Regions from separate parts of the Homo sapiens genome. Here regions 1 and 2 are each linked to region 3. Evidence: fine-mapped expression QTL. A gene starts in region 3. Each other region holds a variant in brackets. All regions are shown on one strand. Distances are between the middles of the regions.

Region 1 (7,746 bases), 180 kb after region 3:
AGACAGAGTCTCACTCTGTCACCCAGGCTGGAGTGCAGTGGCATGATCTTGGCTCAGCACAACCTCTGCCTCCCGGGTTCAAGCAATTCTCCTACCTCAGCCTCCTGAGTAGCTGGGATCACAGGTACCCACCCCGATGCCTGGCTAATTTTTGTATTTTTAGTAGAGACTGGGTTTCACCATGTTGGCCAGGCTGTTCTCGAACTCCTGACCTCAAGTGATCTGCCCACTTTTGCCTCCCAAAGTGCTAGGATTACAGGTGTGAGCCACCACACCTAGGCTCTGAGTTGCTTTTTATTAGCGTCAGTGCCTTGCAGATTATTCTTTCAACGCTTCCTTTTGCAGTCTCAGCATTTTCATCAACTGACTTGTGAAGCTGTGCAGTGAGGACCAGGGCTTAAGCCCTGGAGGGCAGCTGGAGGGCAAATCACACTGCAGAGGCTGGTTCTATTGCCTGCACTCAAGATGGCAAGACTGTGAGAGACATTAAACTTGCCCAACAGACAGAATAAAACCTACATGGACTCACTCTGCTTCACTCCACTAGGCAGATGTCCTTGTTACCATGTGGTTCATTGCCAGTCTTGCTGAATTCAACCTGGGCACCCCCAACCTTAGTTGGCACATGTTTTTTTGCTTTCTGCATTATCAGTGCATCACTTGATCCAACTTGCCCTGGCAGAAGATGCAGCGATGGCAGATAGGTGCTTGTTGCCCATGAAAATATGGTTACGTAGTCCAAATTAGAGGAACAGCTTTTAGTTCTTATTGGTTATCTCATTGAGATAAACTTCTGAGGACCAGAGTGGACTCTCATTTTGGAAGCATGATTCTTCAGGTGTTTTCTACCTCTGGCTACCAACATTCAGGAAATATTTACTGAGTCCCTCTTTTGCCCCAGACACTGTTTTGAACACTGGGTTTAGAGTAGTGAACAAAACAGATACGCTTACCCATATGGAGCTTGTGTGCTAGAAGGGAGAGATAGACACAAAAGAATAGAACTAGGTAAAATATATAGGATGACAGAAAGGATTAGTGCTATGGAGGAAAAGAAAGTAGGGGAGGGAGTTAGGTAGTACAAGTGTATTAGTCCGTTTTTCACGCTGCTGATAAAGACATATCCAAGACTGGGTAATTTATAAGAAAAAAAGATTTAATGGACTCACAGTTTCAAGTGGCTGGGGAGTTCTCACAATCACAGCGGCAGGTAAAAGGCACATCTCACATGGTGGCAGACAAGCGAAGTGAATGAGAGATAAGCTATAGGGGTTTCCCCTTATAAAACCATCAGATTGGCCAGGTGCAGTGGCTCATGCCTGTAATCCCAGCACTTTGGAAGGTCAAGGAGGTTGGATCACCTGAGGTCAGGAGTTCGAGACCAGCCTGACCAAAATGGTGAAACCCTGTCTCTACTAGAAATACAAAAATCAGCCAGACATGGTGGCACATGCCTGTAATCCCAGCTACTTGGGAGGCTGAGGTAGGTGAATCGCTTGAACCCAGGAGGCGGAGGTTGCAGTGAGCTGAGATGGCACCACTGCACTCCAGCCTGCATGACAGAGCAAGACTTTGTCTCAAAAAAAAAAAAAAAAAAACAGATCTCATGAGACATATTCACTATCATGAGAACAGTATGGGGAAACCGCTCCCATGATTCAATTATCTCCCACTGGGTCCCTCCCACAACACGAGGGAATTATGGGAGCTGCAATTCAAGATGAGATTTGGGTGGGGACACAGTCAAACCATATCAACAAGTAAGGTGGGAGAGTTTCAATTTTAAATATGGAGTGGTCAGGGATGACTTCACTGAGATGGCGGCATTTGAGTGAAAACCTAAAGGACATGAGATAATGAGCCATTTGGACAGCTGGGAGAATCTGCATTCCAGGCAGAGAACAGCAAATGCAAAAGTCCTGAGGAAGTGGCAGAACGCAGGAGCAATGAGGAGGCTGGAGAGGCTGGAGTGGAAAAGGATAGGAGGTAAGGTCCGAGAGTTTGCAGAGGCACTAGAGCATGCAGGGTTCTGAGGCCCATGGTAAGAATTTGGCTTTTATTAATACTTGCATCAGATGAGAAGCCACTGAGCAGAGAGTTGACATAAATGATCACTCTGGGTTCTGTATTGGGAAAAATAAATTCTATGGGAGTGTGGTAGATTTAAAAAATATGTCCACAAGTGCCTCGATGCTCCTCTCTTTAAAGGATGGAGCCTAACCTAATCTCTTTCCCTTGAGAATGGGCTGGACTTAGCGGCTTTCGTCTCACAAATAGAAGTGGGGGTAGCAATGGTGCAGGAGCTTGGAGATTGAATCAAGGGGCAATACAGCCTCCTCCTGGCTCTCTCCCTCTTAGCTCTCTTGCTCTAAGGAAAGCCAGCTGCCATGTCATGAGGACATTCAAGCAGCCAAGGGAGAGCCCACCTGCTTAGGAACTGGAGCCTCCTGCCAATAGCCAGAGAGAAACTGAGGTCTTCATTGATGGTGAACAGCCACGTCAATGAACCATTTTGGAAGTTGATCTTTCAGTCAAGCTTTCAGATGACATCTCTTTCTTTTCCTCATTTTAAAAATTGTGGGCAAGTACACATAACATAAAATGTACCGTCTTGACCATTTTAAAGTATATGGTTTAGTGGTATTGGATACATTCGTCGTGTAGTGCGGCCATCATCACCATTCATCACCAGGACTCCTCTCTTCTAGTAATACTGAAACTCTATGCCCATTGAACAATAACTCCCCATTATCTCTTTCCCTCTGTCCCTGGCAACCAGCATTCTACTTTCTGTCTCTATGGTTTTGACTACTCTAGGTACCTCATGTAAGTGGAATCGCCTAGTATTTGTCTGCTTGTAACTAGTTTATTTCACATAGCATATTGTCCTTCAGAAAACATCTTGACTTCAACCTCATAAGAGACCTTGAGCCAGGATCACCCAGCTAAGCCACTTGATTTTCTGTTGTTTTGAGACAGGGTCAGGCCCAGGCTGGAGTACAATGGTGCCATCTTGGCTCATTGCAACCTCCATCTCCCAAGTTCAAGCGATCCTTCCACCTAAGCCTCCCGAGTAGCTGGGACTACAGGCACACACCACCACACCCAGCTAATTTTTTGTTTTGTAGAGATAGGGTTTTGCCATGTTGCCCAGGCTGGTCTTAAACTCCTGATCTCAAACTCTAATCCTCCCACTTGGCCTCCCAACATGTTGGGATTACAAGACGAGCTACCACGTCTGGCTCACATACATATTTTGAATTCCTGTGTCCACCTTTGAAAGTTTTCTATTTCCTTCATCATTCCCACCAGAATCCATTGTCACATTGCAATCTGTTCCTTAGGGCTAAGAGAACTGAGAATGCTTATTATTTTTTTTTTGAATGGGGTTCAAAGAAGAGTGACAAAGTGAGAGAGTGCGTGGCTGATGGAATCTTAATTTTTGTGCTGCTGCTTTTGCTGCTTAGGAATTTTGCTGATCATCAGTGGCTTCCTCGCTGAGCTGCAGGTAACTGAGGTCGATGGATATTTGACTTTCTGTGCATGAGCCAAAATCTCGCCTGATATTTGCTTCAGTATTTTGCTTTCATTCTTTTGCAGAAACATTCATGCTTTGCCGAGACAGAAATAAAGAGATTAATTGCTAGAAACTCAGACATGTGACTATACAAACAGCATATTTCAGAGAAATTTTTAAAAGTTCTATTGTGGGGGGAAAAAATAAGAATTCTACTCCTCCCATGAGAGCTGATGACAAGGGAGCTGGCTTGGAGAAGTCCTAGAGGGAGAGAAACCCTGGGGCTGGAATGGAAGGGTGCCAGGAATTTATGTCTCCAGTAACTCTGAGGAACGCAGTTTTGCATTAAAATTTTAAGTGGGGCTGAAATTCAGACAGAAAGGATTTTGCCTTCTCCAAGAAAACTGTGATAAATAACTGCAGCATTGACTTAGGGAAGACACAAGTAGTTGAACTAGAAAGTGGAACTGGAGTTGACTCTAAAAACCTAATTTATGGATTACCAGGTTCCCAGTCAAAATGACTAATAATTCTGGGGCTGTAATTACCCACCTGTAGGCTTTACTTTTTTCCCTCAAATTTCTACTTTTTTTTTGTATTTTACAAATTTTTAATAATGAACATGCACTCCTTTTATAATATAAAAAAATCCAATTAACTTAATTAGAAAAAAATTGCCCACCAGGTGATGGGAGGTTTCTTGTTAATTCATCACCCGGCATCATACTCTGCCCACCATGGAACAGTTATTTTTGTGGCTAACTCTGGGTGAGGTGTTGCAGGGGTGTGGTAGGGGAGGGTGGTGATAGGAAGGGTGAGGGGAAAGACTGTTTCTTAGAGCACTGTCTAGAAGAGAGACCCGAGCAACTCCCTCTGAGGGGGAGCCA[C/T]GTACATCGCCTGGCTTTCAGTGATTTCAAGGGGGAAGGGGAGCGGAAGAAGCAGAGGTTCTACTGTGGCGGGGGAGGCTATGTATCTGGTTTTGTCACATGATATCCACTGTCATGGAAGGCCTTGCATTTGGAAATCTGAGTTTGGTCCAAATGGGAGCCTGGGAGAGAAGTCTCAAACCGTGCCACCTGTCTTCATGCTGTGTAGTTCCTGCAAGGGGGGCAGGGATGGAGCAGCCAGCCCAGTCTGCCTCCCACCTGGCCCATCTTTTGTCTTCTACTGATGGGCTTGCTGGGGTAAGCAGTCAGCTTTGGTATTGATTGAAAATTTACAAGACTTTTTTTTGTTTGTTTTCTTTTCCTTTTTTGAAGACAGGATCTTGCACTATTGCCCAGGCTGGAGTGCAGTGACACAATCATACTCATTGTAGTCTCGACCTCTCTGGACTCAAGTGTCCACTTGCCTCAGCCTCCCCAGTAACTGGGACTACAGGTATGCACCACCATGCCCAGCTTCAAGACCTTTCTCTGGGTTAGACCCATTCTTGGTGTTTGGTGTCCTGAGTAGAAACTTGGGAAGGTCTGGAAGGCTTTACTCAATGTAAATGTCATGATTAATTTTACTTTCATCTAAGGGAGTCAACATCATATAATGAGTGGCTGCTGTGTGCCCATTAAAGAAATAAAGGGCCGGGCACCGTGTCTCACACCTGTAATCCCAGCACTTTGGGAGGTCGAGGCAGGCGGATTGCCTGACCTCAGGAGTTTGCAACCAGTCTGGGCAGCACAGTGAAACCCCATCTCTACTAAAATACAAAAAATTAGCCGGGTGTGGCGGCATGTGCCTGTAGTCCCAGCTACTCAGGAGGCTGAGGCAGGAGAATTGCTTGAACCCGGGAGGCGGAGGTTGCAGTGAGCAGAGATTGCCACTGCACTCCAGCCTGGGTGACAGTGAGACTCCATCTCAAAAAATAAATAAATAAAATAAAATAAATAAAGAATTCAATCCTTGTCAGCTCAGTCTCCAAATGGAAGTCTTCTCTGTTTCTCAGAAGAGCAACGCAGGGATTCCAACATCACACACCACAAATGGGGGAGGAGGAATCTAGTCACAGTTTACAGTGAGATTCAGAGGATTGCAAATGAGAATAGAGGAGACAGTGGAAAATTAAAATGCAGCCTCACAAGGGAAAAAGTGGTATCTGGAATTTGAAAGAATGTTCATGCTCTGAAAGCAGCACTCATGTCTAGGTAGAGTTAATGTATGGCATCTTCGTCATAATCGTTCCATTATTGATTAACTTCACATTGTGCTTCAGTTAGTTAATTGTAGCCTTTTCCTGTTTCTGGCTCTGGTGTCTAAAAGCAAAATAGACCCTTTGTTATGCTCTCAGAAGAACTATTTACACATTTTGATTTGGCAAAGAACAGTTCATTTTTTTTCTGGGACTTTCTGGCTTTTTTATTCCACATGGAATATGCAAGCAAAACTGGCTGAACTTTGAAATAGCAGCTAAATCCTAACAGCACTACAGCATTACTTGCCTTGCTCTTCTCAAATGGCTATATTTATTATAAATTAAGTCAATATTCTGCTGTAGAAAAGTCACTGTATAACGGGTACATCTGCCTACTATGCCTAGTCCCAGAACCATGAGCCTGTCTGGCATAGATCATTCAGTTTTGCAGGCATCCCTCTATGGAATGTGGTTCTCTCCCCTACAGAAGGGTCCCCACTGTACTGGGGGAGGGGAGGTTGTAAGCAAAGTCATCCGTCCCTTGGAAGACGTCCTGACCTCCCCAGGACTGAACTTTCAACCTCTTGAGCTGACAGTTAGTAGTGGATGCACAAATTTTGCTTGCGACTAATTGCAGCTTGTAAATGGAGCATTGTGGCTCCGGAAAAGAGCCAGCAGTCTCTCTTCCCAGGGTCACCCAAGTGGAATCTGGACACAAGAAAGCCTGTCCCCTAATGGGCGTCCTCCCTGAGCCCTTCCCAACCTCTCAGGCCCTGGGTTTGTCTCCATCAAGTAGAGAGCTAGAGGGCACAGCAGGAGACTCCTCTGCAAATCTTCTTCGAATGCCGGGCTATTCATAGTAACTTGCAGCTCCCTCAGGAATTCCCACAGACTTCCCAGAGCTGACTATTGTCTCCCCACCCTGCAGCAGTGGCCTTTCACAGACCCAGGGATATACACGCCATCTCAAAGCACAAAATGCTTTGCAAGCCGTCCGTGAGATGTTCACCAAAGAAACTACTGGAAGTTGAGAGGACGAAAAACAGAGGCAAGTTGGGAAGGTAGAATAAGATTTTCCAGCAGATTAACTATTTATTTTTAGTTTCACAAAGCAGACACAGATTGTAATTGACAAATAAGCTATAGAGTGCCATGGAACATGAAGTCACATTTCTTTTTCTTAAAGGCAGGACTAGGTATGCTCTGAGCATCTCTGATAGAACAGCTGGCTGTACATGTGAACCACAAACATTCAGTTGTAAAACAAAAGGGGTAGCCAAGGGTGACTTTTTTGTTTTCTCTGATAGTTTCATTGGACTGAGGTGGTAGCTAATATCATCCTGTATCCTCAGACCATGAAAAGAACATAAGGAACTCTGTGAAAGTGTGGAGTGAGCTTTCCAGGCAAGCATCATATTGTTCTCAGTTAATCAAATTTGTCAAATTGTTCCCAGTGCCTTAGAGCTAAAGGGTAATACTTAGGACCACAGTAAACAAATCCCCAGCCATCTGCTCTGACAGCTGTTGGACCTTGAGCACGAACTTGTATTCCCAGAGTATTCTGAGAGCCCTTAGGCACAGGGATGTACTAGAATGGTTCGACCATCAAGTGGCCAAAGAAAGGTTAAAACTACTAACAGCCCTGGGATATGTATTCCCAGCTAGAGGTGTCCCAGGAATAAGCAACAGGAGCAAAATTCTCCCTTTGTTCATCAGTCTCTGAGCATTCCAGTTTCTGTGTCATCTGGATATTTTCTCAATACCTTCAGCTTGGCCTTAAAAATCAATGCAGTTAGTGAATTGCTTAGTTGAAACTGAACACATCTATTGATGCCGAAACAAGAGCTGTGCACTTCCAACCAATTTAAAGAAATCTGCTTGGATGATCTGTTCGATTCTGTGCCTCTCGAATGTGAGGGCTCAGAGAATTCCCTTGCAGTTTCAGTAAATTATTTCTATGAAAGTTGTTTGCCTTCACAAGTTAGTTTTTGTGTGCCAATTTCATTAGGCCAATTGGGTGTCATAAATGATGTTAGAATAGGGTGATCAACCAACCCAGTTATGCTGAGACTGTCTCAGTTTTAAAACTGAAAATTCTACATTC
Region 2 (7,746 bases), 57 kb after region 3:
AGTTGCCCACTTGGCCCTCCTCCAAGTATACTTTACTTCCTTTCATTCCTTTCTGCTATTTGCCTCTCGGTTGAATTCTTTCTTCTGAGGTGGCAAGAATTGAGGTTGCTGCAAACCTATACGGATAGAGATTCGCAGCTGGCAACTGGATGAACCTCATTTGACACTCTGTGTGTTGCTATAATAAGAACAATGTATGGACGCCAGGTACAGCAAAAAAAAAAAAAAAAAAAAAAAAAATTATTCTGCTACACTCCCTCCATAGGGTCAGGGTGAATTCCTAAGTGTTATCTAACTTATTTTAATTGAAGGTAAGAAAATCCAAATGTAACACAAACCCCGAAGCTGAAGCAATTGACTACCAAGAGGCCATTATTCCATTTGGCTAGAAATTGGCTGATGAAACAAGAATTGATTCCAGAGTTATTGATGACTTGGCTCTCCCCCCTGTTTTCAAGGGGGATTCTACTGAACCATCAAGTCATCAATTTGCTCATTTCTGCTTCCATCAGTGATTAATAATTCTGTAGTTGGATAGGGTATCTTTGCAATTGCTAAGTGCTAAGTCATTCATTTCATTAGTAATACATTCCTACTTTTATTTGCTGCCTGAAAAGTAAGCTCCATAAGCTCTGCAGTTATAGCTTGAGCATGAGGTCTTAACTAAGAAATGAAAATTATTGTTACCTTTAAAAATTGGTAATGTAAGAAAAACTATAAGACTTTAGAATAGGTGCACGTTCAGTGGAATGCTGAAGACTGGGTATTATCTGATGCTGTATCAGTGTATCTTTGTCTCTGACTAGGCTATGTTTTAAACTCTTTAAATTGTAAATAAATGATAGCAATGCAACTACTTCTTATCTATTACCTCTCTATTGATGATGTGACAAATTATGACAAGTTTCATGACTTAAAATAACACAAGTTTATTATCTTATAGTTCTGAAGGTCAGAAGTCCCACACAGGTCTCCCTGGGATAAAATCAAGGTCTGCAGGGCTCCACTCCTTTCTAGAGGCTCCAGTGGAGAATTAATTTTCTTCCCTTTTCCAACTTTAGAGCTCACCTTTGATTACTGGACTCCTTTCTCCGTTTTCAAAGCCAGCAATGTTTCATCTTTCTGAACATTTCTCTATAGGCACAACCCCCTCTGACTCTCTTCTGCCATCCTCTTCCCCATTTTTTTTTTTTTTAAGACAGAGTCTCACTCTGTCTCCCAGGCTGGAGTGCAGTGGCATGATCTCCACTCACTGCAACCTCCACATCCTAGGTTCAAGTGATTCTCCTGCCTCAGCTTCCTGAGTAGCTGGGAATACAGGCGTGTGCCACCATGCCTAACTAATTTTTTTTTTTTTTTTTTTTTGCATTTTTAGTAGAGATGGGGTTTCACCATGTTGGCCATGCTGGTCTCAAACTCCTGACCTTAGGTGATCCGCTCGCCTCAGCCTCCCATAGCGCTGGGTGAGCCACCATGCCTGGCCCAGCCTTTTCCACTTTTAAAGACTTGTGATTATTTTGGACCCACTTGGCTAGCCCAGGGTACTCTCCCTATAAGGTCAGATGATTAGTAATCTTAATTCCATCTGTAACCTTAATTCCCCTTTGTCATGTAATTTAAGAAATTCACAGGTTCTGAGGATTAGGATGTGGACTTCTTGGGATGAGAGGCAGGGAAGGGTGGTATTATTCTGCCTACCACATCTATAGACATGCAAATAAATTCTGCCAAATGGAGACTGAATTGACTTTTCTGCCTATCTACTCCTATATAAAAATCCAGTTTTGTTTCTATTTGTAAGTTCATTTCAATATTCCTTTATTCTATATAAATTTGTAGTCTTTGAATGGGGTGTGGTGGCTCACTACTGTAATCCCTGCACTTTGAGAGGCTGAGGCAGGAGGATCATTTGAGGCCAGTAGTTTAAGACCGGTCTGAGCAACCTAATGAGACTCCTGTCTCTTAAAAAAAAAAAAAAAATTTTTTTTTAACTAGCCAAGCATGGTGGTGCAAGCCTGTAGTCCTAACTAGGTTTGCTTGAACTCAGGAGTTCAAGGCTGTAGTGAGCTATGATTGTGCCACCGCATTCCAGCCTGGGCAAGAGAGCAAGACTCTCTCTCTTAAAAAAAAAAAAAGGAAAAAACTTGTAATCTTGACTTCTCCATTGAATCAGTGTTAACAGCCTTCCCAGTCCCCTCATTAATTAATGAGCTACACAAAATCTTTGACATGTATTTATTCTATAGATAAAATAAAATAATTACTTTATAAAGATTACATAATTATATTGTCAAATTTTACCTTTTTTGAAAATGTATCAGAGACTTAGCTACTAGACATAGAAAAAATATATGTTTACTAGAAATATATTCTAGAGCTTCAGAAAGTGAGTCTATCCCCCACTCTCTTCCATCTTCTTATAAATTTCAACAGGCACAGGAGATGGACCTCACTGGGACTGTAATGGCTAGTGGTTGAAAGTTGGAGATCAGATTGCTTCTCCCTGACACTTGAAACTCAACTTTGCACCATAATCAATTCAAGGGAATTGTTTAAAATCACCTTTTCATTTATCTAACTGGGTCCTGGAGAAATTTTACAATCTACTTTTTTCCCTGGTTTTCAAAGTTTCGTTTATTTGAGTAGTTTCTAGCCATTATCATGTTTGCTCCTGAGAGGCATGCTGAGAGAGAGGGAAAAAATTCTTGGGCTAATTACAGAGTCTAATACACTGAGGTGGAGGTGGACTCCTGGCAGGCTCAAGGTATAGCTAATAAAGATGACAGTTTTGAAGCTGCAGGAAGCAGTGGCCCAGGCAACAGCAGGCCCCAAAGCATGCCCCATCCAGCCATGCACAGAGAAGTGTGTCTCAGCATGGAGTGGGGGAAGGGGAGACACAGACAGATGCCTCCACAACAGTGCCTCCCACCCCACCTGGCCTGTACCCTCTTTCTTTTTTTTTTTTTTTTTTTGAGACAGTCTTGTTCTGTCACCCAGGCTGGAGTGCAGTGGCACGATCTCGGCTCATTGAAACCCCTGCCTCCAGGGTTCAAGAGATTCTCCTGCCTCAGCCTCCTGAGTAGCTGGGCTTACAGGTGTCCACCACCATGCCTGACTAATTTTTGTATTTTTTTTTAGTAGAGATGGGATTTCACCATCTTGGCCAGGCTGGTCTCAAACTCCTGACCTCGTGACCCACCTGCCTCGGCCTCCCAAAGTGCTGGGATTACAGGCATGAGCCACCTTGCCCGACCGCCTGTACGCTTGTAGCTATGCCTTTTCTAGTCCTCTGGCGAGCCTGC[C/T]GTCCTAACAATAGCCGAGATGGTGGCTCTCCTGTGCATGCATGTACATGTGTGTGTGTAGACATGCACACCTTCCTTGCCCACAGCTCCAGGAAAAGCAGCCCCAGCAGAGCCACAGTGGCTTTCTCTGTGGGTGGACAGTGCACCTGTACATACAAACCCCACTTAGGACTCAGATCCAAGCAGAAATACCTCCTGCAGCCTTGCCCATCACCAACACAGTAGGAGAAGGTCCTCCATGGGGGAGGGGGGTGCCCACTAGAGGCCTCAATTAGCTGGACATGTGGCAATGGCCCATGGCAGACTCACCAGTTGCCTTTCACTGCTTTGATGTCACTCAGGAGGTTCCAGGCCAGAAAGATGCCAAAGATCTGAAGGAAGGTGATACTCACAAAGACCTAGGTAATGACGATCAGGTTGTCCAGCAGCCGTTTCTCAAACTGACCCATGCAGCCTTTGGTGTGGATGGAGCCCTGCTGCTCCAGCTCCAGTTTAAGCCAGACATCACAGTGAAGTGGCGTCATTGTCTGGGGTAGCATCCGAGGTTCGTTGCCTCATGCCAAGGAAATCAAGGACATAGATACACAGGAGTCAGTTTAAGAGTGGAGGTTTAATAGGTGAAAGAAGGAGAAAAGAAAATAGCTTTCTTTTCTGCAGAGAGAGAGGGGCACCCAAGTGGGTCTTCTGGTCCCATGATGAAGTGCACAGGGGTTTTAAAGACTGGCTTGGGGAGGAGCTATCTGATCTACACAGGGCCCAAAGAATGGTTGGACCAGGTGAGACATTTACATAGTTCAAGAGGAAGCTGGCCATCCCACCCTAGTCTTCTATTATGCAAGTGGCTTCTCTACTTTACCAGCTCCGCATTGTCTGCTCCTTACTGTTCATGTGGTTGGCAAGGAAAAGGGAAGATGGAGCCGCCATGTTGAACATGCCTAGCCCCCTGGTAGGCTTCTCCTATTGGAACAGCTGCTAACATTCACCCATGCAAGCTTCCAGCTTGCTTATTTATGTCTGCAGCTCAATTTTACAGGCAGCTTTGTGTTAGAAACACATGTTGTAAAGGGAGGGGATGTTCATGGAAACTCAGAAAAAGGAAGTCATGTAGAGAGTGCTGCAGTGGCAGCAGTTGTAACCTCTGGTCGGGAAGGCAGCCATTCCTGCAGCATCCCTACAAGGAGGAAGCTGGGGTAAAAAACTCAACCTCAAAACTGGCTGCACCTATAGTCCCAGCTACTCGCAAGGCTGAACAAGGAGGACCACTTGAGCCCAGGAGTTTGAGGCTATAGTACACTATGATTGCCTTTGTGAAAAGCTACTGCACTCCAGCCTGAGGAATACAGGGAGACTTGTCTCTAAAAACAACAACAACAAAAACCCAACCTCTTTATTCCTACCTCCCTCTGATCTCCTACCAGGGATCCCCAATGGCCAAATCCAAATTGAAGCCAGAGAGCAAGTAAATTCATTGAAGCAGCCCAAGCAGGTCAAATTCCCAGGGTCAAGAACAGGATGGAGAAGTGTGGAGAATGAATCTGGAGAGGCAAACAGAAGATATTCAGCACAAACCCTATGAGATGGGTAGTATTATTGTGCCCATTTTATATATGTGGAAATTGAGATGCAGAGGGGTTAAATAATGCACCCATAGATAACAGGGGGATAAAAGTGGCATTGAAATCCAGAGTCTGTGTTTAATCACTGTCTATACTGCTACCACTTTTTTCTCCATGATATCTCCTGCATAGTGCCATATGGAATAGAGGTCCTCAACAAATACATTTTAAAAGAAAACAAAAGGAAAGAAGAGATTAAGTAAACTATTTATGAAGATTTTAAGTTAGTTCTCTAGAACAGTGGTCGCCAACTTTTTGGTATCAGGGATTGGTTTCATAGAAGACAATTTTTCCACAGACGGGAGTAGGGAATGGTTTTGGGATGAAACTGTTCCACCTGAGATTATCAGGCATTAGAGTCTCATAAAGAGCATGCAACCTAGATCCCTTGAATGTGCAGTCCGTAATACGGTTCGAGCTCCTATGGGAATCTATTGCCACTGCTGATCTGATAGGAGGTGGAGCTCAGGTGGTAATGCTTGCTCCCCCAGCACTCACCTCCTGCTATGAGGCCCAGTTCCTAACAGGTTAGTACTGGTCTGTGGGCTGGAGGGTGGGGACCCCTGCTATATTAGTCCATTCTCACACTGCTATAAAGAACTTCCCAAGACTGGGTAATTTATAAAGGAGAGACATTTTATTGACCCACAGTTCCATAGGGCTGGGGAGGCCTCAGGAAACTTGCAATCATGGCAGAAGGGGGAGCAAGCACGTCCTTCTTCACATGATGGCAAGAAGGAGAAATGCCAAGCAAAATGGGGGAAAGCATGTTATAAAACCATCGGATCTAATGAGAACTCAATACCATAAGAACAGCAGCATGGGGCTAACTGCCCCCATGATTCAATTACCACCCACCAGGTCACTCCCATGACATATAAGGATTATGGGAACTACAATTCAAGATGAGATTTGGATGGGAACACAGCCAAACCATATCATTCCAACTCTGGCCTCTCCTAAATCTCATGTTCTCACATTTTAAAACACAATCATGCCTTCCCAACAGTCCCCCAAAGTCTTAACTCATTCCAGCATTAACCCAAAAGTCCAAGTCCAAAGTCTCATCTGCGACAAGGCAAGTCCCTTCCACCTATGACCCTGTAAAATCAAAAGCAAGTTAGTTACTTCCTAGATACAATGGAGCTATAGGCATTGGGTAAATATGCTTGTTCCAAATGGGAGTGCCGAGTCCTACCCACAGACCCTGACCCAGTGACTGATGAACAAATGCACTCAGACACAGATATCCAATGAAGGAGCGGGCTAGGGGACGGGGCCACTCACAGACCCTGAGGAGGGTGCTGTGAAGAGTCAGCAGCCATGGCCTCAATTAGCCAGAGAAGTTCGCATTTATTTAGTACAGATTAAATGACAAAGGTCTTGAGTAAACACCACTAGAGGGTAATTAACATTGCCGACCTCCCAAGTAGAGAGCAGTTATGCACCACAGATGATCAAAGGATAGTCTTAGGACCACATGAGTAAACAAGCTATTTAGATAAACTCCTCTACATTCCTATGTAAGCTTTTAAGAGAATTCAGCTGCCTTCAGTCAAATCTTTTACTGAAGCTATGCAAAACTCCCAGCATTCCAAGAAGGTTTGTGTCTATTTCCTATAACTTTATCTTTATAATTTCTCCCACCACCCTGACTGATTCCATACAGAAATTGGCCAAAATGAGGGTGCTATAGGCCCCAAGCAAATCCAAAAATCCAGTGGGACAGTCAAATCTTAAAGCTCTGAAATGATCTCCTTTGACTTCATGTCTCACATCCAGGTTATGCTGATGCAAGAGGTGGGCACCCACAGTTTGGGCAGCTCCATCCCTGTGGATCTGCAGGGTACAGACCCCTCCCAGCTTCCATCATAGTCTGGCATTGAGTGTCTGCAGCTTTTCCAGGTGGAAGTTGCAAGCTGCTGGTGAATCTACCATGCCGGGATCTGGAGGATAGTGGGCCTCTTCTCACAGCTCCACTAGGCAGTGCCCCAGTGGAGACTCTGTGTGGGGACTCTAACCCCACATTTCCCTTCCACACTGCCCTAGCAGAGGTTCTCCATGAGGGCTCCACCCCTGTAGCAAACGTCAGCCTGGACATCCAGGCATTTCCATGCATCCTCTGAAATGTAGGCAGAGGTTCCCAAACCTCAATTTTTGACTTCTGTGCACCCACAGGCTCAACATCACATGGAAGCTGCCAAGGCTTGGGGCTTGCACACTCTGAAGCCACAGCCCAAGCTGTACCTTGGCCCCTTTCAGCCATGGCTAGAGCTGTTGGGACACAGGGCACCAAGACTGGGTAATTTATAAAAGAAAGAGGTTTAATTGACTCACACTTCCGCAGGGCTGTGGAGGCCTCAGGAAACTTACGATCATGGCAGAAGGGGAAGCAAACACATCCTTCTTCACATGGCAGCAACAAGGAGAAGTGCAGAGCAAAGAGGAGGAAACCCCCTTATAAAACCATCAGATCTCATGAGAACTCACTGTCATGAGAAGAGCAGCATGGGGGTAACTGCCTCAATGATTCAATTACCTCCCACCAGGTCCCTCCCACAACATGTGAGGATTATAGGAACTACAATTCAAGATAAGATTTGTGTGGGAGCACAGCCAAACCATATCACCTCCTCTAGAAGAATGTCCTAAGCATGGAGTCCTAATTAGGGAAAAGGAGTCAGGCTGGCAGGATCTGGGGAAAGCAAAGATATAAAGCAGATAAGCTATAGGTCTACCTTTCTTCATGGTCCAGGATGTGTAAACAAATAGAGGAAGAACATAAGCTGTAGGTCTGCTTTTTGTTGTTGTTGTTGCCCAGGATATGT
Region 3 (7,746 bases):
GCTTCTCTTTTAATTCCCAACGTCACTCCACCTGATCTATTTTATTTTAACCATTATAGTGAAAGTGGTGTGGCATTGTGGTTTTAATTTGCATTTCCTTGACAATAAAAGAAGTTGGATGCCTTTTCAAATGTATATTAGCCATTTGGATCTCCTCTTTTTCTCCTATTCAAGACTATTGCCTCCCTTTCTTTTAGGTGTGTTTTTCTTACTGATTTTTTTTTTGCATTTGTTTTCTTTGCAAATGAGGATAAACAGTTTATCAAGTTATGTAGTCATTTTTTGTCAATTGCCAAATAAATGACATATCAGTATCAGACATATATATATATACATATATATGTCTGCAGCTAGTTCTTACTGAATGATTGCAATGTCTTTTCTTCATTAATTGTTTTGTTTTATTTTGAATGCTTACAATGTAAAAGGGACAAGATACATATCCTTTAACCCTGTATCTACTTTATCATTTAGTTTTATTATCTAAGACATTTTACACTGAAGAAACAACAGCAAGTAAAGCTTACACAATTTCTCATGTCACATATCAAGTTAGTATAAAAAACTGACTGAAAGGATTCCAAAAATCTGTGCCTAACCATACTCCCATATCTTCTCTATTGATCTACTCATCTTCTATCAATATGTAATTACATTAACCTCATCTATGTCATATAAAGCACATCTATCCCATCTATTTTAATTCTATGTATTGAAGTCACCAAATTTGTATTACCAGCCATGACATGACCCCTGATCTGCAGAATACTTTGTATCTCCAATTGGAGGTTTAGTAGATGTCTAAAACTCAGCATCATTCCCTTCACCTAAAGTTTTTTCTCCTCATCCTCCCCAGGTTAGTAAACGACACCATCATCTACCAGTTCTAAAGTTAACAAAAAAGCTGCCATCCTCAGAGCTTGCAGTGAGCCGAGATCGCGCCACTGCACTCCAGCCTGGGCGACAGAAGGAGACTCCGTCTCAAAAAAAAAAAAAAAAAAGCTGCCATCCTTTTTTCTTTCACTTTCTAGTTTACTCTCATCAGCAAGCCTTATCAATAATACTACCTTCGAATGATCTTCCAATGCAATCATTTCTGATCATTTCTACTTCTCACACATGCAGGTCCAAGGCATCATTGTCCCTTGCCTAACTACAATAGTGTCCTAATTGCTTATTTTTATTTTTTGAGGAATAACATATATACAGTAAACTATAAAAACGTGAAGCATATAGATATATGAATTACGTATGTATCAAGTGTCAAGATAAAGAAAACTCAGCATTCCTAAAGCTTCCCCATGTCACTTCTCAAACATCCTAAAAAGAAAAAGAAAAAAAAATCCTTTCTTTCTACAGAGGTACGTACTACTCTACCTTTAATCACCATAGACAAGTTTTTACTGCTTTTGAACTTTAGAATTGAATCATACAGTTTGTACTCATTTCTACCTAATTTCAGTCAACATGTTGAGATTGGTCCATACTGTTTCACATAGCAAGTGTGCCTTATTTTCTATTATTATGCAGTATCCGATTGTATGATTATATCACGAATTTTAGCATTTTCGAAATTCAGATCATTTCCAGGCTTTGGCTATTAAGAAGTAGCAACTAACCTTATTACACGTTTTTTTTCTTCCTTGCTTAGTAGAAAAACAGGCTCTTTAACATTTTTAATAAATCTCTCACAAACTGCTGCTCCTAGATTACAAAAAGTCAAAGCCAATTCCTTGAATCTGAACTTCAAGTCACCATAATAGAAACCGGAGCTGCTGTACCTTACATTCTGAAAGGTACCTCAACAAAAGCACATCAAGGACTGTTTAAAACTTCTAGTATTTAAAAAGATCCATCTTTCCTTCCAATGCCTATGGATGATAACAATAAAAGGAGAACCTTAAGAGATCTGCTATTGAGTTTGAGAAGGCCAAATTTAATGATTCCAAACTCCAGCCTTAAATATTTCTGTAGAGACTCTGAGAAATTACCTCTCCCTTGTCTCCACTCCCACTGGCTTCCTCAAGCGCAGATGCCTGGGACCCTGTATGATTAGTCAAACAGTCTTACCAGTACCATCATTATGCTTCTCTAAAGGGCTACTAGTGAAAGAAGCTGCTTTAATTTATTTTAGTTTTTGCCAATCTTCAGTCCTTAGAAAAGTCTTAATTATTTAAAAAAAAAAAGGGTTGGGGAGGTGGTTAACTGTTCTAAGGCATTCAACAAGAGGAAACAGGTACCTTTTATGAAAAGGACTTTCAAGTTAAGTCCACAGTTTAACTGAAATAACTTTACAAGAACGTCTCCACATAAAACTCTTAACACCTTACCCCTGGCAGCCGGATGGATGCGATCTATATACAACACGTCTCTTAAAATGCTCTCACAGAAACGGTAATAAGATACTCTTAACTTCCTTAAGTCAAATCCACATTCGGCCGCGCTGCCACCTGCAGAATTAGCTGAAGGGGAAACAATAAAGGTCCTGCCGGACAGCCATGAGCAGCCCTGGTGCTGCTCCCCGGATGCCCCCGAGCCGAGAAGCGAAGGCCACGCTGGGAATGTCGTCCTCGGAGGCAGAGTACGGGGAAGGGATGGTTCTGAGCAGGTGGGCATCATGGAGGCTCCAGATTCTCGTGTAGCAGTCCTGGCCCACTGCCACCACGATTCCCTCTTCCTCGTGCACATGCAGGGGCAGATAGGCGGACTCATTCACGTGACCTTCGTACTGCCTTACACATTTAGTGGCCCTCAGATCCCACAGCTTGATCTTTCCAGTCATGTCTGATGCCATCAGGCATTGCTCTTCTTGGAGGATTTGCACAGAGGTCACTGCTGAGTCATGGAACAGGCGAGTGGCCCTCCACCCCTTGCCTCGATTTCTACAACGCAGATCAATGGCAAAGATCTCCCCGGAGCGACAGCCATTAAACAGCAAAGGAGCCGTACTAGCAAACTGCTGGGCCAAGACATCACTGCTGGTATCAAATGACTGCTGGTGTCCCGTCGCCACGCTGGTCAACAGGACCTGCTGAGACAAGCCTGCACTAAAGCAGTGATATGCCCGGGTGTTGAGGGACCACGCACAGGACCAGGCCTCTGGGATCTGGAAACTGCAGAGCATGCCAGGCTGGTTAACTCTTGTGTGAACACTTAAGAACCGCGACGCTGGGAGCAGCACTGCACAGCTTGGAGCATCTGTGATTCCCTCGAAGCACAGCAGAACGTGAGAGTCCAACTGGTTCAGCGAGGCCCAGCACAGGGACTTCACCTTCCGGTTGGGGACGTAGAGGTTTCTGAGCACGTACACGTGGAACGAAGGGATCTTCAGAGTTCGCAGGCTGATGATGCCGTACTTGGAGCCTTCGACTTCGACCTGGTTCACTACGAAGAGCTGGTCGCTGTTGGTACTCGCCAGAATGAAGTTAAATCGGTCGCTCGCCAAAGAGGAGGGATCCAAGCTCCGAATTTGGACCTTTTTCCGCTCCATGCAGCTCACACGCAGCTCGTTGGCTAAACGGGAGTAACTGGTGACGTTGAGGAAACCTAGCTGGCTTTTTCGGAGCATGGAAGATGCATTAAATCCCATTCTGGCTACCTTTTTCAGCTTGGCCTCTTCCTCGAGGAGTCGCAGCCTTTCAGCCTCCATTTCCTCCTGCGGAATGTTCCTCGTGACAGGAAATTCTGCAGGATGTTCTTCTCCGTGACAGGATGTTCTTTTCCGTGACAGGAAGTTCCGTCCGGGTGCAAGCGGAAGTGTTGCTACTTTTTATCCTCTCTATTCTAGGAGGAAGTCCATTGTTACAGATGTGTATTACAAATCTCTTTTCCTACTCTGTGGGTTGTCGTATTCTCTCAGTGGTGTCTTGATGAAAGGAAGTTCTTGATGTTAAATTTTTTCCTTTCTCTTTTTGAGACAGGGTCTTGCTCTTTCACCCAGGCTGGAGTCCAGTGGCACGACCACGGCTCACTGCAGCCTGGAACTCCTGGGCTCAAGTGATTCTCCTACCTCTGCCCTACTTAGCTGGGACTATGGGCTCACAACACCATGCCAGGCTACTTTTTTTGTAAAGATGGGGTCTCCCTGCTTTGCCGATGCTAGTCTGGAACTCTTGAGCTCAAGCAGCCTGTCCGCCTCAGCCTCCCAAAGTGCTGGGATTACAAGCATGAGCCCACGCGCCCTGCCTGTATTTCTTATTTTTTTATTTTTTATTTTAAGACGGAGTCTCGCTCTGTCGGCCAGGCTGGAGTACAGTGGCGCGATCTCGGTTCACTGCAAGCTCTGCCTCCCACGTTCACGCCATTCTCCTGCCTCAGCCTCCCAAGTGGCTGGGACTACAGGCGCCCGCCACCACGCCTGGCTAATTTTTTTTGTATTTTTAGTAGAGACAGGGTTTCACCGTGTTAGCCAGATGGTCTCGATCTGCTGACCTCATGATCGGCCCGCCTCAGCCTCCTAAAGTTCCGGGATTACAAGCGTGAGCCACTGCGCCCGGCCGCCTGTATTTTTAAAATACAGTTAGAGACCAGCCTGGGCGGCATGGTGAAACTTTGTCTCTAAAAAAATACAAAGATTAGGCCGGGCGCAGTGGCTCACGCCTGTAATCCCAGCACTTTGGGAGGCGCAGGCAGGCGGATCACGAGGTCAAGAGATTGAGACCATCCCGGCTAACACGGTGAAACCCCGTCTCTACCAACAATTAAAAAAATTAGCCGGGCATCGTGGCGGGCGCCTGTAGACCCAGCTACTCTGGAGGCTGAGGCAAGAGAATGGCGTGAACCCGGGAGGCGGAGCTTGCAGTGAGCCGAGATCGCGCCACTGCATTCTAGCCTGGGCAACAGAGCAAGACTCTGTCTCAAAAAATAAATAAATAAATAAAATACAAAAATTAGCGGGGTATGGTGCACACCTGTAGACCCAGCTACTCAGGAGACTGGGAGGGAAAATCACTTGAGCCTAGGAGTCTTGGAGGGAAAATCACCTGAGCCCTGAAAGTTGAGGCTGCAGTGATCACCCCACTGCACTCCAGCCCAGCTGGGAGACAGAATAAGACCCTGTCTCAAAAAGAAAGAAAAATAAGTAAATAAATTATGAATTTATCCAAATTGTCCATTTGTTTCATTAATGGTTAGTGTCTTTCATGTTCTGTTCAGGACATTAGTACCTATTACATGATACTAGTAAAGTTTTGGGGTGTCTTCAAGAGGAGGCTGATATCTCCAGTCCCCATCTGGATGTTTCCTTTGCCACAAAGCTTGCTGACTCCCCTTACGCTATGAATTTCCAGGAATTTTGGAGGACTGGGGAGAGTTGGTAGGGACTACAGAGAAATCCGGTGATATCTGGACTATGGATCCTGTCGGAATCTACAGGCCCCAGAGCTGGGATCACAGAGAGCACAGGAGATTGAGGCCCACACACTTGCCATGGAACATAACATGGGACAAGGGATTTCTATGTATCAGAAGAATGTGTTTCACCACTGCCAAATGGAAGTCAGCTGACAGATGCAGAAGTCTTGCAAAGGGCTATCAAAGCATAGAGGACTGCTTGATACTGAGTTATCAGTGGGGCTGTTAGGAACCCCATATATTCTAACAATGACCTACAGAAAGCAGATAGCAACATGGCGGCAGTCAGACATTTAAGGCATTGCCTGTTTTCCTTCTTAAACCTCCTGACCCCACCATCGGAAGAGCAGGCACATGGAAAAAAAGGGGTGTGTATAAAGAAAGTTGGAACTACGGGTCTAGTCTGCTCTGGAAGGCATGGAGGAAGTTTTTGAAATAAATATGAGACTAATATTTTAAATCAGTAGGACCTAATCTTAATACCTAGAATGAAAGTTTTAATAACTAAGGAGGCTGATACTTTGAAGCAATGAAATCTGACAAAATACCAAGTGTAGAAATGATGAGACTTTCAAGCTTATGCCTCTTGAGGTGAGATTCTCAATCAAACTGATTACACATCTTTGTCTACCCTAGTATACTGTGGACATCTTTAGACAGGGATTGTTTCTTATCCATCTTTCTATCCTTACTGTCTAGTGTATAATATAGTACATGGGACATAGGATATAGATAAGTGAATGAAGGAATGAAAATTATAAGAACTACATGTTTAATTCTCCTTTATTTCATAGGCTCCTTCACTGAGAGGAATAAGGGATTAAGGTTATTTCTGCAAAATCTATCCAACTTCTACTCTACAGGGAGAGCTTTCAATCTATTTCCACTTCTTTTTTTCAATTTTTAATTCCCGTGGATATATAGTAGGTGTATATATTTATGGGGTACACGAGATGTTTTGATACAGGCATGTAATGTGAAATAAGCACATCAGGGTAAATGGGGTATCCATTCCCTTAACCATTTATCCTTTGAGTTACAAACAATCCAATTACACTCTTTAAGTTATTTTAAAACATACAATTAAGTTACTATTGACCATGATCACCCCGTTGTGCTATCAAATAGTAGGTCCTATTCGTTTTTTGTGTTTTGTGTTTTTTTTTGTGTGTGTGTGTGTCTTGCTCTGTTGCTCAGGCTGGAGTGCAGTCGTGCGATCTCGGCTCATTGTAACCTCTGCTTCCTGGGTTCAAGTGATTCTCCTGCCTCAGCCTCCCGAGTAGCTGGGACTACAGGCTCCCGCTACCATGCCAGGCTAATTTTTGTATTTTTAATAGAGATGGGGTTTCACCATATTGGACACACTGGTCTCGAACTCCTGACCTTGTGATCCGCCTGCCTCGGCCTCCCAAAGTGCTGGGATTACAGGCATGAGCCACCACGCCTGGCCAGTCCTATTCATTATTTAACTTTTTTTTTTTTTTAACTCATTTACCATCCCCACCTCCCCCTTCTTTTCTGATTAACTAACTTTCCTTCCCTCTCAATAAACATATAAATCAACCTTCTAGAAAAAATAAGTCTCCTTAAATGCTACATGACTTTTTATCTACTGTCTTAAAAAATTATTTCAGCCTTTAGGATTCTTTCCTTCTCTTTTAGGAATTTACATACTCCATTCCCACCATGCCACTCCATTTCCTTCATCCACCATCTCTTCCCATTTCTCCATAGAAGAAATTGGAAACGTTCCCCATAACTCTCACAACTCTGCCCCTCAGGTCTTACCCCAGCTCAAGGTCCCATACTCACCCTGCCCAACCACATCGTGTGACCTTTGCAGCAGTGGTTCTCATCCTGGGACAACTGTTGGCAATATCTGGAGACATTTTTAGCTGTCACAACTGGATACTACTGGCATCGAGTGGGTTGAGGCTGGAGATGCTGCTAAACATCCTACAACACATAGGGCAGCCTCTTACGACAGAGAATTATACCCCAAAAAACTCCTCTCCTCAGAGTTAAAATTCAGAACTGTGTATAAAAGGCAAGGCTTACCAGCTTCCACCATGTGTGTGTGTGTTTTAAATTCCTAAATCTTCACACATGCCACATGCCTCTTAATACTGACCGTTTTTCCCATCCCCCACCTCTGTTCATGTCTGAAGCCACTTCCTCACTTTAGCATCACTGTTGTGAGTCACAGAGAGAGGAACAAGAGGCAACATTCCTCATCTTTTTACTCCAATATCTATACAAGACGGATAGGGAGGTAAAAAGATAAACAGGGATAGATTCCTACTCTATTCTATTCTGAGCCTCTTGCAAAGTCATATTCCAAATGCTTCAGATAGGCTTCACTGCAGCTTATTTATTCTTACCAATTTCACTATA

Alleles and levels. Positions count from the first base shown, and alleles are read on the strand shown. Sizes are in standard deviations (SD) of each study's normalised expression. Not every link is listed here.
In carriers of allele C in region 1, the expression in monocytes after triphosphate RNA of the gene that starts at base 3,686 in region 3 tends to be lower than with T alone (large effect, 1.1 SD a copy in Kim-Hellmuth 2017).

Evidence for each region. PIP is the estimated chance that this variant, and not a neighbour inherited with it, causes the effect.
Region 1: its variant is fine-mapped to the expression of DCAF4L1 in monocytes after triphosphate RNA (Kim-Hellmuth 2017, PIP 0.95).
Region 2: its variant is fine-mapped to the expression of DCAF4L1 in whole blood (TOPMed, PIP above 0.99).

Annotation. Positions count from the first base shown.
Region 1 is chr4:41,795,401-41,803,146 of GRCh38, reverse strand. It overlaps PHOX2B-AS1 (PHOX2B antisense RNA 1), which reads right to left. Exons shown (of 4, transcript NR_187403.1): 4 at 6,710-7,417. Among named protein-coding and RNA genes, the nearest start is that of PHOX2B, 51 kb to the right of the region's middle. RefSeq lists a silencer at 6,321-6,615. The variant C/T (reference allele first, on the strand shown) is at 4,405.
Region 2 is chr4:41,920,242-41,927,987 of GRCh38, reverse strand. All of the region lies in intron 2 of LOC105374426 (a long non-coding RNA gene), which reads left to right. Among named protein-coding and RNA genes, the nearest start is that of TMEM33, 11 kb to the left of the region's middle. The variant C/T (reference allele first, on the strand shown) is at 3,303.
Region 3 is chr4:41,977,696-41,985,441 of GRCh38, reverse strand. It overlaps DCAF4L1 (DDB1 and CUL4 associated factor 4 like 1), which reads right to left and starts at 3,686. Exons shown (of 1, transcript NM_001029955.4): 1 at 1-3,686. The coding sequence starts at 3,649. The coding sequence ends at 2,459. RefSeq lists enhancers at 2,424-3,196, 2,756-3,955.